Homo sapiens: one gene and its partner. The protein of the gene in region 1 binds, or shares a complex with, the protein of each later gene. Each region holds a gene or a part of one and is shown in the gene's direction. Other genes may lie near its edges.

Region 1 (7,026 bases):
GACTAAATGCTGGTAATATTGGGGTAGCTACTTTTATTGACCACATTTTAATTTTCATCTGTGGGCCACCTTTTATTTTGCCCTTATAGGGTCTTACCCTTAAAAGTAGCTTCTTCCATTCATTTCACATACTCTTATTTTTCTTCTTTTCCACCTTCTCTTTATTGTGTAGATTGTTAAAAAGAATGTTTGTAGTTTTATACCCACTAGATAAATTGTAAAAAAACAAAAACAAAATGCAAAACAAATAAAAAAGAAAGATCACTTTTGATAGAAGAAGATTGGAAAGTTTTTGCATTAATTTTTGTGAATTTAATGTTGGTAAGAAATCACATATTTTCTCTTTATCTAAGTGACATTCACGTATATAGTTTTTGAAAAGTGAAAATAATTCACCATAATGATTATCAATCATTAATATTAATGATAGCTATTCCTACTAGCATAAGACTTTGGAAATTTATTTATTTCATTCATTTAGCAAATATATATATGTATATACATTTGTAAGCATATATGTGCATACACACACACACACACACACACACATTGAGCAGCCACATTGTGCTAGGCAGTATTCTAAATAGTAGCACACTGTGCTAGGCAGTATTCTAGATGTAGGTGATACATAGACCATTAAATCATGATTTTGCCTTTCTAAGGCTCGCTGACTAGTGAGGAGGAGACATGACATAAGTGCAGTGCACAGAAATATCTGTATAGATATAGACATGCAAATCACTGCTGGGAACATCACGGATGCAGTGGCTTATCTGCTTGGTGGCAAGGGGTGAGGGAAGAGGACTTGAGAGAGGAGGATTGAACAGAGTCCTGGAAGATCACAAGACCCTAAATAGGTTGAATGTTTGTTTTCCTTTAAAAAAACAAGTGTCTTCTTGGAACTTGCATTTTAGTTTAATTTGCTAAGTATTCCCAAATTTGAAATTTGGGACTCTTAAAAGAGTCCTGTATAGGAACCACCTGGGTTTTGTTGACCTCTCCAGGTGATTTGTTTTTTAAATTGTGCAAAGTAAAATTGCAGAGCTAGTCGTTTTTATAAGGACATCACCTATTTTGTATTTGATGGTTGGATACAGCTGGTTGGTAATCAGCAAATATATTTTTGTGTAGCAGCTTCCGTATGTTTATGTCATTCACTCAGCATTGTTCAGGAAAAGAGGATCAGTAGGTTTTACCTAACTTTGTAACTGGTGGGAAAATGTAGATAGAGAAAGAGGTGAAATAACTTTCTCAAGGTCACACTGTGATTCATTCAGAGGCAGATCCAGAAATAGAAACTGAGTCAATGAATCAAGTCTAATGTCATTATTATTTCTGTTTGGATATACAATGTTTTAAGGCCATATAGAGAGTAAAAACTGTTTATAAAAAATGTGATCAGATTTAGGGCCTTTCTTTAATTAGATTTTCCAGTTCCTGTTTTTAATAAGGTGTCCTCCTTTAATGGTTGAACATCTGGCCTTCCTTGAGCTGGATGAAGGGTGATTGTTGGCCAGAGTGAACCAGATTTTCTCTAAGCAGCTCTCATGGAAACTGTTCTTATGGTGGTCAAATGAATCCAGATTGACACAGGCCCTTGTGTCTCAGCTGTCAACTCTTCATGTCATCTGCCACTACGTTTGCTTCTTTACTCTCCTCTGCTATTTTTTTACGGGTGTCTTGGAAATTACCAGAGGCTTGGGGAACACTGGCATTGTCCTTAGGGAAATTTCTTTTTGGCCTTAATTTTGCATGTATTTGGATCAATTAATTGCCAGCTGCCTTTGAAGCAGGTGATCATTATATCTATAAGCTTCCATAAGCATCTTTTATTTTTAAACCATAGAATGAGGGTTGTCAGCATTACAGGAAGAAACAGATGTTTTTCGCTTTTTACCGCCTTCCAAATGTAGGGAGAAAATACAAGTGAAAAGGGATTTCTATGGCACATGTCTGTGTCTCTTTGGTAGATCTAAAAACATTTAGCAATGAGGGAGACCAAACTTTATCTTGTTTTAGCTATTAAGAAACTGATGATGCCTTAGGCCATTGCATTTAAGTATTTCATAATTAATGTGTTTGAAATACATCTTTTTCAGTGTTTAGTAGAAAAAATGGCGTCTGAAATTCGGGAGGTTCCTTTACATATTAAGTATAACAGAAGCTTGGTACTGGAGTTTTGCAGTTAATTAAAGTTTAGATATCCAACGTGTTAAATTTGTGATGCTAAATCGCTTTTGATAGGAATCTTTCCCAAGTCAATTATGTGCTTATCTTTTTTTTTAAACACATGGAATAAAAGTTTAATCTGTTTTAAAGGGCTTAATGTCATCTTCAGGCACATCATTGTTACATCTTATAAAAACATTAGTGATGTCCTCAACAGCTATTGAAGTGTGTGGGCTGTTGGCTTCAGTCTGTAGTTTCTGAGTTTTTGTGTCTGTGTAGTTTCTTGATTGTTTTCTTGCTGCCAGCTATTTATTGTTATAGCTGCCTTTTTTTTTTTTTTTTGAGACAGAGTCTCGCTCTGTTGCCCAGGCTGGAGTGCAGTGGCACGACTTCTGCTCACTGCAAGCTCCGCCTCCTGAGTTCACGCCATTCTCCTGCCTCAGCCTCCTGAGTAGCTGGGACTACAGGCGCCCACCACCATGCCCAGCTAATTTTTTGTATTTTTAGTACAGACGGGGTTTCACCGTGTTAGCCAGGATGGTCTTGATCTCCTGACCTCGTGATCCGCCCGCCTCGGCCGCCCAAAGTGCTGGGATTACAGGCGTGAGCCACCGCGCCCGGCTATAGCTGTCTTTAGTCTCTTTGCTCCTGTCCCTCAATTTTTTTGTAATTTGACTTTTCTGATCAATTTGCAATTGGCTTACAATTCCTGTAATTATGATATTGGTTACACTTATTGTACTTCTAAGTGCCAGACTCTGTTGGTGCATTACATAACTATCTGTAATCCTTAACAACAGTCTTGAGGTGTAGCTGTTTATCCTCATTTTTCGAATGAAAAAACCCAGGCTCAGACAGTAAAGTAACTTCTTGTCTAAGGGCATTAAGCTAGTAAGTGGCCCATCCAGGATATGTCCTTAGAAAACCAAATCTGTTGTTAATATGTATAAGATGAAACCAAGTAGATCATTGAGCTTTTGGAGGACTAGCTAATTAATAAAGTGCATAGGCTCTAGAACTTGGATTGTGCAACTCTGATTTTGGCCTTTCTAAAGGTTATCTTGAATTTTTTTTTTTTTTTTTTTTTGGAGACAGATTTCACTCTTGTCGCCAAGGCTGGAATGAAGTGGCGTGATCTTGGCTCACTGCAACCTCCGCCCACTGGGTTCAAGCAATTCTCCTGCCTCAGCTTCCAGAGTAGCTGGGATTATAGGCGCCCATGACCACACCCAGCTAATTTTTGTATTTTTAGTAGAGACAGGATTTCACCATGTAGGCCAGGCTGGTCTTGAACTCCTGACCTCAGGTGTTCTATCTGCCTTGGCCTCCCCAAGTGCTAGGAGGCCTATCTTGATTTTTATATCAGTAGAGGGAAGAACCCACTCTAGGAGTACACATTTTCTCATACGGCTTGGTAAATTGCTACATTGGATTTTTTTAAGGCCAGGAGTAGTTTGATTTCCAGCAGAGCCCCTGACAGAGTATAGATGTCCAGTTAATGTCTGACGAATGAAGGTCAGAATCTGCCTGATACGTATAAAATGTCTTATTATAAAAGGAAAGGGGTTTATATGAATGCTATGCTTTCCCCTAAATACTGCCTTACTGGGTTCCATATATCAGAGAAGAATTTGGCGATGTAAGCGGGGACCAGAACACTGATCTTCAATCATTTTAGATGGGTCTGAAACATCCTTTCTCATGGTTTCTTTAGGCCTGTGGTTTGGATTGAAGTCAAGTGCACCAGTAGCTTCAGGGATGGGTTTTAATGACTGCTTTATGAGTTGAGGATGGGCCTAGTTTTAAGAGCTTTAGGCGTTTGGATATAAGCCATGCGTATTTGAAATGGAGCAGGTACTTTTAGTGCTTTTCCTTCTGATTCTTCTGAAAAGATACAGAAAATATACAGTTGGATGAAGGTAGCAGTAGTTATTCTAACTACGTTTATTCTAGGTATATTTGCAATCCTAGTTTTGCTGTTTAGCTAAGTGAGTCTCCAGTAATTTTTCCTCATATCTATGAAGGTAGAAGAATAATTTCAAATTAATACTATTAAGATGAAATGAAATAGCATACATAAAGCCCCTACAATTCTGCCTGGTACATGAGAGGCACTTAACTGGGGCTATTTGCTCTCCTGACTGGATTTATTATCTTAAAAAAAAAGTCATTGTTCAAAGTGATCAGAGCCAAATTTGTTAAAACAACCCTGAAATTGTATACAAAACTTAGCAGGATATGAACTGACCAGATACTAGTTGAGCCCCAGTTTTGTTTTGTTTTGTTTTTTTTTGCAAATTGTTTATGTATTATTTTTTCTTTTTTTTTTCTGGAATTGTAAGCATTTTGTCACTTATCAGATATTCTGTGGTGGGGGGTTGGATAAGAAAAGCATATGATGGGGTGTGGCTGTAAGATTTGGGGGAGGGTGCTGCTTTCCAAAGAAGGGGTGGGAAGAGGAGGCGGTAGCTGACACCCTCAGTGTTTCTGCTCTGCACAGCATCTGGCTGCAAACCCCTGACTTTGCAGCTTTACCTTCCCACGGTCTCCTTCATAAATGCTCTACTTTACACTGTTTTATGAACATGCATTTCATTTTCCCGACTTTGTGCCTTTGTCTTGCAGCTTTACCCTCTTGGAATACATGATTCGTCTCTTTTGCTTTAGCATTTGAAAAGTGCTGATTGAATTCCGTTTCCTCTTTGTATCTTTTCCAGCCAGACCTTACTGGCTGTCATCTCACTTTCTCTGTACTTTACTGTCTAGATCATATTATATATGCTTCTTGGATTTAGGGATTCTTCTGGTCTTCTTTCTTGCCACCCTCTGCCTTTCCTTCCTCCTTGCCTGTTCACCCGATTCCATCCATCCATCATCTCCTCTCCTACTAATCTGTCCACAGATATCTCTTCCGTGCCTTGCTCTGTGCCTGTCAATATGTGTAAAGCACCGACTGTACTGAGGTCTTGATGAATACTTGCTCATTCACCATTTTTGGCAGTGATATAGACAAGTTGAGTATCCAGGCTTCCTACTGGCAATTAAAACTAGTTGAATTGAAGCTGGAAAATTGCTAACCTTTCTGGGCAGTCAAAATTAATTATTTTCAATGAGGTGTGATTGAATCAATGATACTTTATAGAACTTATGTTGATAGAAGAATAGCTATTCTTGTTTCTGCAGGTTAATGTTAAAATAGTAATGACATTACAGCAACTGACCTTCCAAATATAAATGTTATTGTAATGAAAGAAGAGGTAAAGGGAATAGAGAAAATTGTATTCCTCTGTTCATTCCTGTTTTGTATTCTAAGTACTAACCTAATGCTAATAAAAGTTAGCATTAAGGAACCATTAGGAAGAAACAAAAATGTACTGCCTGTGACTTGATAGTTATTAGATATCATTTTAGTGACAGTAGAAACTTTCTAAGGCTTTTTTATCTTAAAATATATGGAAAATATGACCTCAGTCAGTTCGGAATGGTAGTAAAGCAAGGTAGTCATAACATCAAAATTCTAAGAATGAGTAACAATTATTTCTGGATGCTATAATAAGATGCTAACCACACTAGAGATTTATTATCCTTTTGATACCTACTGCTCCACTATGGGTGAGAAGGAGGGAAGAATTTATGTCTTCTTCCTTTGTAAAGATGTACTTGGAAGTGTTGATTGGATAGGAAAATTACTGCCTCTATTCTGTGATCCAGTCAGGCTCCAACCTACCAGGAACCCACTGGAAGCTTTATTATCTGTTACCCTAGAGCTGCAATGGACTGAAAACAGTCCTATTGTTTTCAGGAGGAATGGAATACTTTCTTGAGAAAATCAAGCCTATATTATGTTTCAAAATTATGCTTAAAAAGGCTTAGGCACTACTCAGTTGAGTCTTTTTTTGTACTTCATGCAGAAGGGTTCTTTGTTGTAGTACCTGGTGATAGAGTGGACACATACAGGAAGAAATTCTGTGTCATTTAAATGGTTGTTTTAGGTACGCAGGAGGGGAAAGAATGTGTTTCAGTAAGCTAGTGTCAGCACTATGGGAAGAGTGCAGGCTGAGAACAATCTATTTCCCTTTTCCGTTTTACCACCAGCTTCCTATTAGGGCACAAGGCAATCATTTCTTGCCTCTTGTTAATACCCTGGCTTCCCAGATTGGAAGAGTGAATGCAATCTTGCTGGGAAGCGTCTTCCTTCAAGTCAATTTCAGCACTGTGGTTCTATAGATATGGTGATTCCAGCAGGTACCTTTTCTCCCTAATAGGGATGCTCTGTGTATTTAGAGCTTTCCTTTATTGGTAGAGCTGAAGAAAATTCCTATGCCGGAAGACCCGTTTATACCACGGAGTAATTGATGGTGAGAGTGGTGATGTTTTGACTTTGATAGTTTTGATCAATTTTTGATTCATGCTGAAGGAGATTTGCATTGGTTAGACTGTCATTATCTGACAATAGGACCGTGTGTGTGTGTGTGTATGTGTGTGTGTGCCTGTGTGTCTGTGTTGTGTGTGTGTGTGTTTGAGACAGGGTCATGCTCTGCCACCCAAGCGGGAGCGCAGTGGTGTGCTCATGGCTCACTGCAGCCTCAAACTCCTGGTCCCAAGCAATCCTCCCACCTCAGCACCTCAGCTTCCAGAATAGCTGGGACCACAGGCGTGAGCCACTATGCCTGGCTAATTTTTTTTTTTTTTTTTTGGAGAGACAGGGTCTCACTATGTTACCCAGGCTGGTCTCGATAGGGCCTTGTGTTTTTGAACACTGATATAATGATTATGTATGATGGTTGATCGTGTGTTATGAAAATGTATGAAATGGAAAGCTATGTTATATAATGTATGGCTCGAAGATTTAGAATA
Region 2 (7,026 bases), on another chromosome or scaffold:
ATTATTTGAACCTTCACAATTCTACGTGAAATAAAAAGCTCTACGACCATATTGAAGCCTCTTCTGCCACCACGTAGCAGGTGCTCAGAGCAGCCTTTGTGCTACAGTAGGCAGGGCCTGGCTCTCTAAAGCCTTGGATTTACTAACCTTGTCCTTGACAGATGACCCCGCAGCTGGTTTCTTTGTTACTCTTTCTTAGTCATCTTGATATGGAAAGGAGACTCAATGTAAATAAGACACAAAACATTCCTTTCTCTGATCTTTGTCATGAAATGCAGGAAAAACCTCTGTCCTTTTTCCCGTTTTAGATGTGCTCTTGGGCAGCACGTGGTCAGGTGCCACGGTGGCTTTTTAACTCCTGTCACTCCTGCCTCTACTGAAGACCTGCTGGCATTTGATTATCAATTCTCCCCAAACAGAGATATCTGAACACTAAGGCCATATACCACTTTAGGCAAAGAAAGGATTCACTTTGAGTTTTGTTTGTTTGTTTTTGTTTTTTTTGAGATGGAGTCTCTCTCTGTCACTCAGGCTGGAGTGCAGTGACGCGATATCGGCTCACTGCAAGCTCCGCCTCCTGGGTTCACGCCATTCTCCTGCCTTAGCCTCCCGAGTAGCTGGGACTCCAGGCATCTGCCACCACGCCCGGCTAATTTTTTTTTGTATTTTTAGTAGAGACGGGGTTTCACCATGTTAGCCAGGATGGTCTCCATCTCCTGACCTCGTGATCCGCCCACCTCGGCCTCCCAAAGTGCTGGGATTACAGGCGTGAGCCACTGCGCCTGGCCTTCACTTTGAGTTTTGTAGTTGATTAAGAAGAGTAAACTTAATAGTTGCTGTTTTTATTTAAATTTGCCTCTCTTTGGTTTATTAAAAACTCAAAAAGCAATGGTTATTTTGGGTAATTTTCAAATACTGGTTAATTTATGAAGTTTTTACTAATCATGAACACTGTATAAAAGATGACTGTTCCCAGCCAGGCACAGTGGCTCACGCCTGTAATCCCAGCACTTTGGGAGGCCGAGGCGGGTGGATCATGAGGTCAGGAGATCGAGACCATCCTGGCTAACACAGTGAAACCCCGTCTCTACTAAAAATACAAAAAATTAGCTGGGCTCAGTGGCGGGCGCCTGTCGTCCCAGCTACTCAGGAGGCTGAGGCAGGAGAATGGCGTGAACCCTGGAGGTGGAGCTTGCAGTGAGCTGAGATCGCACCACTGCACTCCAGCCTGGGCGAAAGAGCGAGACTCCATCTCAAAAAAAAAAAAAAAAGAAAAAAGAAAAGAAAGGTGACTATTCCCATTTCTCTCTGTGGCACAATAACCAAAATTTTACATTATGCTGTCTAATCTCCGTGCTGCCTAACTGACCCCTCTTGAATGGTAAAATATAGCCAGAATAATCATCAAAAAAAAAAAACTCAACAATTTTAGTGACATGCATAGAAGTAAGTTTAAAGTCTTATAGCACATTGTTGTCTTCATTAAAGCGCTCTAAGATTTAGCTTCCCTTTCCTGAATCTGGGAGTCCCATTGACACATGAGCAAGCAAGGGAACTAGAGGTGCGCTAGTGTGGTTCTTTACCCGGCCACATCTGGCCACTCAAACGGGCCGAACACATGCAGTGGGAGCCCCAGGCAGTGCCGTGGTGGGGAAGGGCTCCCGCTCTAGCTGGGGCCTTGAGTGCCCTCCACATTCCAGAGTGCTAATAGCTCTGCGAGATCTGTGGAAGTTTAATTTGGCTTTGGAGATGTCGAATTAATATTTTTGTAAACTGAAAAAAATAATTAAAACTATTTTAGTAACTATTTATCATTTTCTTTTATGTTGCATTAAAGTTTTGTTGTCCTTGGGAAGTCTCCAAAATTAAAACATTAGCATTTGACTGGATGGAAATTATTTCACTAAAGGGTAATCTGCTTGAAAATTTTTAAAAAAGAACAAGAAAGCAAACAAAAATCTACTATTTTTAAATTATATCTCATGATGGCCAGGCGCGGTTGCTCATGCCTGTGATCCCAGCACTTTGAGAGGCTGAGGCTGGCAGATCACTTGAGGACAGGAGTTCGAGACCAGCCTGGCCAACATGGCGAACCCCCATCTCTACACAAAAATTAGCTAGGTGTGGTGGTGCACACCTGTAATCCCAGCTACTCAGGGGGCTGAGGCACAAGAATCACTTGAACCCGGGAGGCAGATGTTGCGGTGAGCCAAGATCATGCCACTGTGCTCCAGCCTGGGTGACAGAGCGAGACCTTGTCTCAAAACGAAAGAAAAATGATTATATCCCATGAAGTACTGGATTTTCATGTGGGTCAAAGCAGTGAGTTGAAAATATGCTTTACTAAGCCCATTTGTGACTCAAGACTGAAGACAGGGAGGTGCAAGCTGCCAGGTCTGTTGTGCCATGCTAGCGTATCCCTACAAATGAAAAAAATCACCATCTGCCTGAAGGGTTTACAGCCCAGTTATCCACATCATAAAGTCAGTTAAGTTGGTACCATCTGCTGTCTTGCTAGCACAAACAATAACAAATCTGGCTATCTGGTTATTTGCTACGTAATAAATCTAGTAGTGTTTCCCTGGTTATGTGCTAGATTCCCACATTATTTTGTTGCAGCATAGCCATTTTGTCATATCGTTAGCCATCAGAAGGCATACCCTACTTATACTCATCACTGATGAATAAAAATAAGAGCAAAACTTCTGAAATACATTAAAAGCTGAGAAATGCCATCATTCGGATGTATTCAGCCAACACTACTTACTTAGTGCACAGTTTTAATGGCCTAACCCTCAAAAAGGCCGTTTATTGTTCCCACCTAACACTACTCTTTTTCTGAGGATGGAGCAAAACAGAGTAGGTATCAGGCACGCTGATTTAATTCTGTCATCTCTGAAAGTAGTTCCTGTTGAAAGAGAAAACTGTGATCGTTAATTTTTTAAATGCGTATTTTAGGCATTTTAGAGCAAATGATATAATCTTTCTGAGTAAACTCATCCCCCTGTCCTCTTATACTAATAAGCTTCTCATGTTAAAAATTCAAATGCAGGATTTTTCCCAAAGCATTTTTAAGCAAATGTAATCTTCCTTAAGTTAGCTTGAACAGAGATGGTTTTGCATTGATTTTTAGTAAGAAGCAGTAGTTCTTCAGACTACTTTTTTAAGTAAAATGCTAATGTTTGACAAGTTTGCAACCTAGATTGATTTTTGTTTTTCTCTGATTGAAAGACAGAACTGATTGTTAAAACTCCATAAACTGACTGCATTCATAGTCATGTGCTTTCTCACTGGCGTGTTGGATTCCTGAGTGCCTGTGAGCGATGCTGTTGTGTGTGTGTGGGAGTGAATTATAATGTGTTTGTGCTGAGAACATTCAGTTTCAGTGTCACTGCACCACAATGGCCCCTTGCAGCCTGGCAGGGTCCGAATGCACAAGACTGTTCTGTCTTTCTCTGAGATCCACCAATCAAGTGCGGGGCCGGATGGGGAGCGGATGGGTGTGAGGCTCTTATTCAATGAGATCAGTTACATCAACATCTTCCGCAGCTGCTTGTAGGGAAACCATTAACACAAGACAGCCAACATAAATATTTATTATGAAATCTTTTACATTTCTCTAGTCTTTCCATTGCTGACTATACATTTAGCATTTGTTGAAAGTAACAACAAATCTAGAGAACTGTGGGGCAGCCTGGAGAGACTGCCTTTTGGATATAAATGCTCCAGTAGTTTCATGTTCCAGTTCCACTCGTACCATTAGGATTTGTAAAGGTGTGCTGATGTAACTGATCACTAAATAATGCTTGTCAGTAAAAATTACTAACCATCTTCTTTTGGCTATTCTGGGTACCACAAATGAGTTTTAAAAACAGGGCCAGGCCAGGCATGGTGGCTCACGCCTGTAATCCCAGCACTTTGGGAGGCCGAAGTGGGCAGATCACTTGAGCCCAGGAGTTCAAGACCAGCCTGGGCAACATGGTGAAACCCCATCTCTGCAAAAAATACAAAAAAATTAGCTGGGCATGGTGGCATGCACCTGTAGTCCCAGCTACTTGGGAGGCTGAGGTGGGAGGATCACTTGAGCCCAGGAAGTCAAGGCTGCAGTGACCCATGATCGCATCACTGCCCTCCAGCCTGGGTGACAGAATGAGACCCTGTTGTGGAAAAAAAAAAAAAGGACCACTGTAGATTTGCTTTTTATCTATTGGTATATAATGTACAACACAACACTAAGTAATGTCTTTTTCATAGGTGTAGAAGACAACTGACACAAAATTGGTTTAGAATAAAATTTTTTTCAAGATTTCAAGCCCTGCTTGAAATATTTCAATATAGCCCTGCTTAACGGAATAGAGTTACTTGAGTCAAAATACCTGAGCAAACGTGAGGAACTTTCATTTATTGGAAATTTCAGTAGATCACTTGGTCCCCACATGTTTTCTGCCATCTTTAGTCTTAGTGTAATTGGAAATGATGTGGTCCCCAGAGGGAGCCAGCTCTGCCCCAGTGGTCATTGGGAAACCTGTTCTCTTCTCTGAAGCTACTAATCAGGGGTCTGATCTGAAGGGAAATTTTGCACTTCCAGAACAGGGGGTAGGAATCTCTTATTCACGTGACATTTTGAATTTCAGGAGGAATTCTGCTACCCAGTGGAATGCCTCGCTCTTACTGTGGAAGAAGTGATGCATATTCGCCAGGTCCTGGTGAAGGCAGAGCTGGAAAAATACCAACAGTATAAAGACATCTACACCGCCTTGAAAAAAGGAAAGGTAGTGCTGTTTAAAGTTGATTGATCAGAAGAGTAGAAGGATGGCCAGTCCCATGCATAGTCTCCTGGGAGAGTTATCTGCTAGCCAGGTGGCACAGACTTTGAGGGGATTTGGGATGTGTGATGTTCATATCCTAGTAGACAGTACATGTGCTGTCTCGTTCACAAGAGGGGGCATTTTTGTTTCTGCCTTAGAAATCAAAACTGGAAGGTTTTCAAGCAACCATAACAAATATCGATATGTCTTCCTAAAACCATGCATGTGGCCAGGCATGGTGGCTCATGCTTGTAATCCCAGCACTTCGGGAAGCTGAGGCGGGCAGATCACGAGGTTGGGATATCAAGACCATCCTGGCCAACATGGTGAAACCCTGTCTCTACTAAAAATGCAAAAATTAGCTGGGCATGGTGGTGCGTGCCTGTAATCCCAGCTACTCGGGAGGCTGAGGTGGGAGAATCGCTTGAACCCAGGAGGTGGAGGTTGCAGTGAGCTGAGATTGCGCCACTGCACTCCAGCCTGGTGACATAGTGAGACTCCGTCTCAATAAAAAAGCCATGTGTGCATTTAGTCATTACACTTTTAAAGGATCTGTAAAGAAAATGTATCTGAGAAGGCCGGGTGCAGTGGCTCACGCCTGTAATCCCAGCACTTTGGGCGGCCTAGGCAGGCGGATCACAAGGTCAGGAGATCGAGACCATCCTGGCTAACACAGTGAAACCCCATCTCTACTAAAGATACCAAAAAATTAGCCAGGCCTGGTAGCAGGTGCCTGTAGTCCCAGCTACTCAGGAGGCTGAGGCAGGAGAATGGCGTGAACCCAGGAGGCGGAGCTTGCAGTGAGCCAAGATCATGCCATTGCACTCCAGCCTAGGCGAAACAGTGAGACTCCATCTCATAAAAAAAAAAAAAAAATGTATCTGAGAAACAGAGGAGGGTTTTTCAGAACCTTCTGCAGATTCCTTCCATGATGAGGAGACACTTAAGAGCTGTGGCCTTTTATTACCTTTTAAAATAGAATTATAATTAAATACAGAGCTACATTATCAGCATCACAGAGCCAGCTGTTATAAACAGGATTTCTGAATTGTCTTCCTCCTCTTGTCTGTTCAGCTTCCCCTATATATAGATGTAAAGCATATTCAAACATGGATATTAGGAAATTTGCTGTTGGCAATGTTTTTTTTCCTCTTAAATTTGTATTTTTTAGCTCTGCTTTTGTTGCCGAACCAGGAGGTTTTCCTTCTTCACTTGGTCTTATACCTGTCAGTTCTGTAAGAGGTAAGGTATTTTGTAATTGATGAAAAGATAAATTTAACAGTCGTAAGAGAAATACCAATTATCTTCCTTATTTCACCATCTTTCTAAACAGGAATAAAATTAGAAATGACTCACTCTGTTACGTTACCTTGTGCTATCCTTGTAGGTTAGGAATATTGATTTCTTAAGAGAGTGAGCCAAATATTTATTTGATATTGAACCTAGAAAATGTTTCTCTGTATGTTACTTCTTTTACATAACTAAGATCATTCTAATAATATGTCATGTTTGAACAGAAAAAAAATAAGATGTGATTATCATGTGATCCCTGGATAGACAAATAAGAAAATTCCAAACACATGTAAGTTGATCCTTTTATAGGAGACAGTGTAAGAGTTAAGTTCTGTAGATTATCTTTTTGGCAATTCAGTGTGTCAATTTGTTACATTCTAATAGAAGAAGGGAGAGTTATGCAGTTTATTGTGGAAACTTACAACTGTACTGCCATAGGCTTCTCTAACTCCCAGTTGCGTCCCCTGGTATCATGCCAAATAACATTTATGATTTTGTTTACAGGCCGGTGTGCTCACAGTGTTGCAAAAAGGTAAGCTAAGCTTGGTTCATTTATACTTGTGTTCCTTTTAGTGACTGCCTCTTTAACGGTACTGCTCATTGCCAGTTTTATTTGGGATAATAGATGCGGCTGCCCTCCAAACCATACTCCACTCTTCCTATCTTTTCATTGGGACCTTCTGCTCTGCAAAGAGGGGAAAGTAGTATGAGGTCAGAAAAACCCTCCACTGCCCATCATCGGCCACTTCGGAGCATTGCCAGGTGAGCAAGGGGCCTGGGTTGTCAAACCATCCTTTGCAGAAGAAGAGTTCTACTCTTGAGGACTGTGGTAGAGTGTTAGGGTTTTGGCTCGAGGGGTTTTTATTGGTTTGTTGGTTGGTTTTAATACAGTTTTACACACAAATCTCCAAAACTTCCCCAAAGG

The links. Proteins that work in one complex are often made in the same cells at the same time.
Region 2: the proteins of FMN2 (region 1) and SPIRE1 are in contact, whole or in part, in a crystal structure (PDB 2YLE), measured with the Homo sapiens proteins. Residues at the interface, in NP_064450.3 of Homo sapiens: Ser1702, Leu1703, Lys1705, Ile1706, Lys1707, Pro1708, Arg1709, His1710, Gly1713, Ile1714, Lys1715, Lys1717, Ile1718, Lys1721, Thr1722; in NP_001122098.1 of Homo sapiens: Gln51, Pro52, Ile53, Asn54, Glu127, Ile131, Tyr134, Lys135, Asp138, Leu141, Lys142, Glu143, Asn144, Glu145, Glu146, Arg147, Glu148, Glu154, Ile157, Asp158, Ala161, Asn162, Thr163, Val164, Glu165.

The regions. Positions count from the first base shown.
Region 1 is NC_000001.11:240,094,863-240,101,888, forward strand, and holds part of FMN2 (formin-2), read left to right. Parts: intron 1-7,026. UniProt on the Homo sapiens protein: Actin-binding protein that is involved in actin cytoskeleton assembly and reorganization. Acts as an actin nucleation factor and promotes assembly of actin filaments together with SPIRE1 and SPIRE2.
Region 2 is NC_000018.10:12,452,092-12,459,117, reverse strand, and holds part of SPIRE1 (protein spire homolog 1), read left to right. Parts: intron 1-4,634; coding exon 4,635-4,772; intron 4,773-5,979; coding exon 5,980-6,050; intron 6,051-6,605; coding exon 6,606-6,633; intron 6,634-6,674; exon of another isoform or gene 6,675-6,726; coding exon 6,727-6,863; intron 6,864-7,026.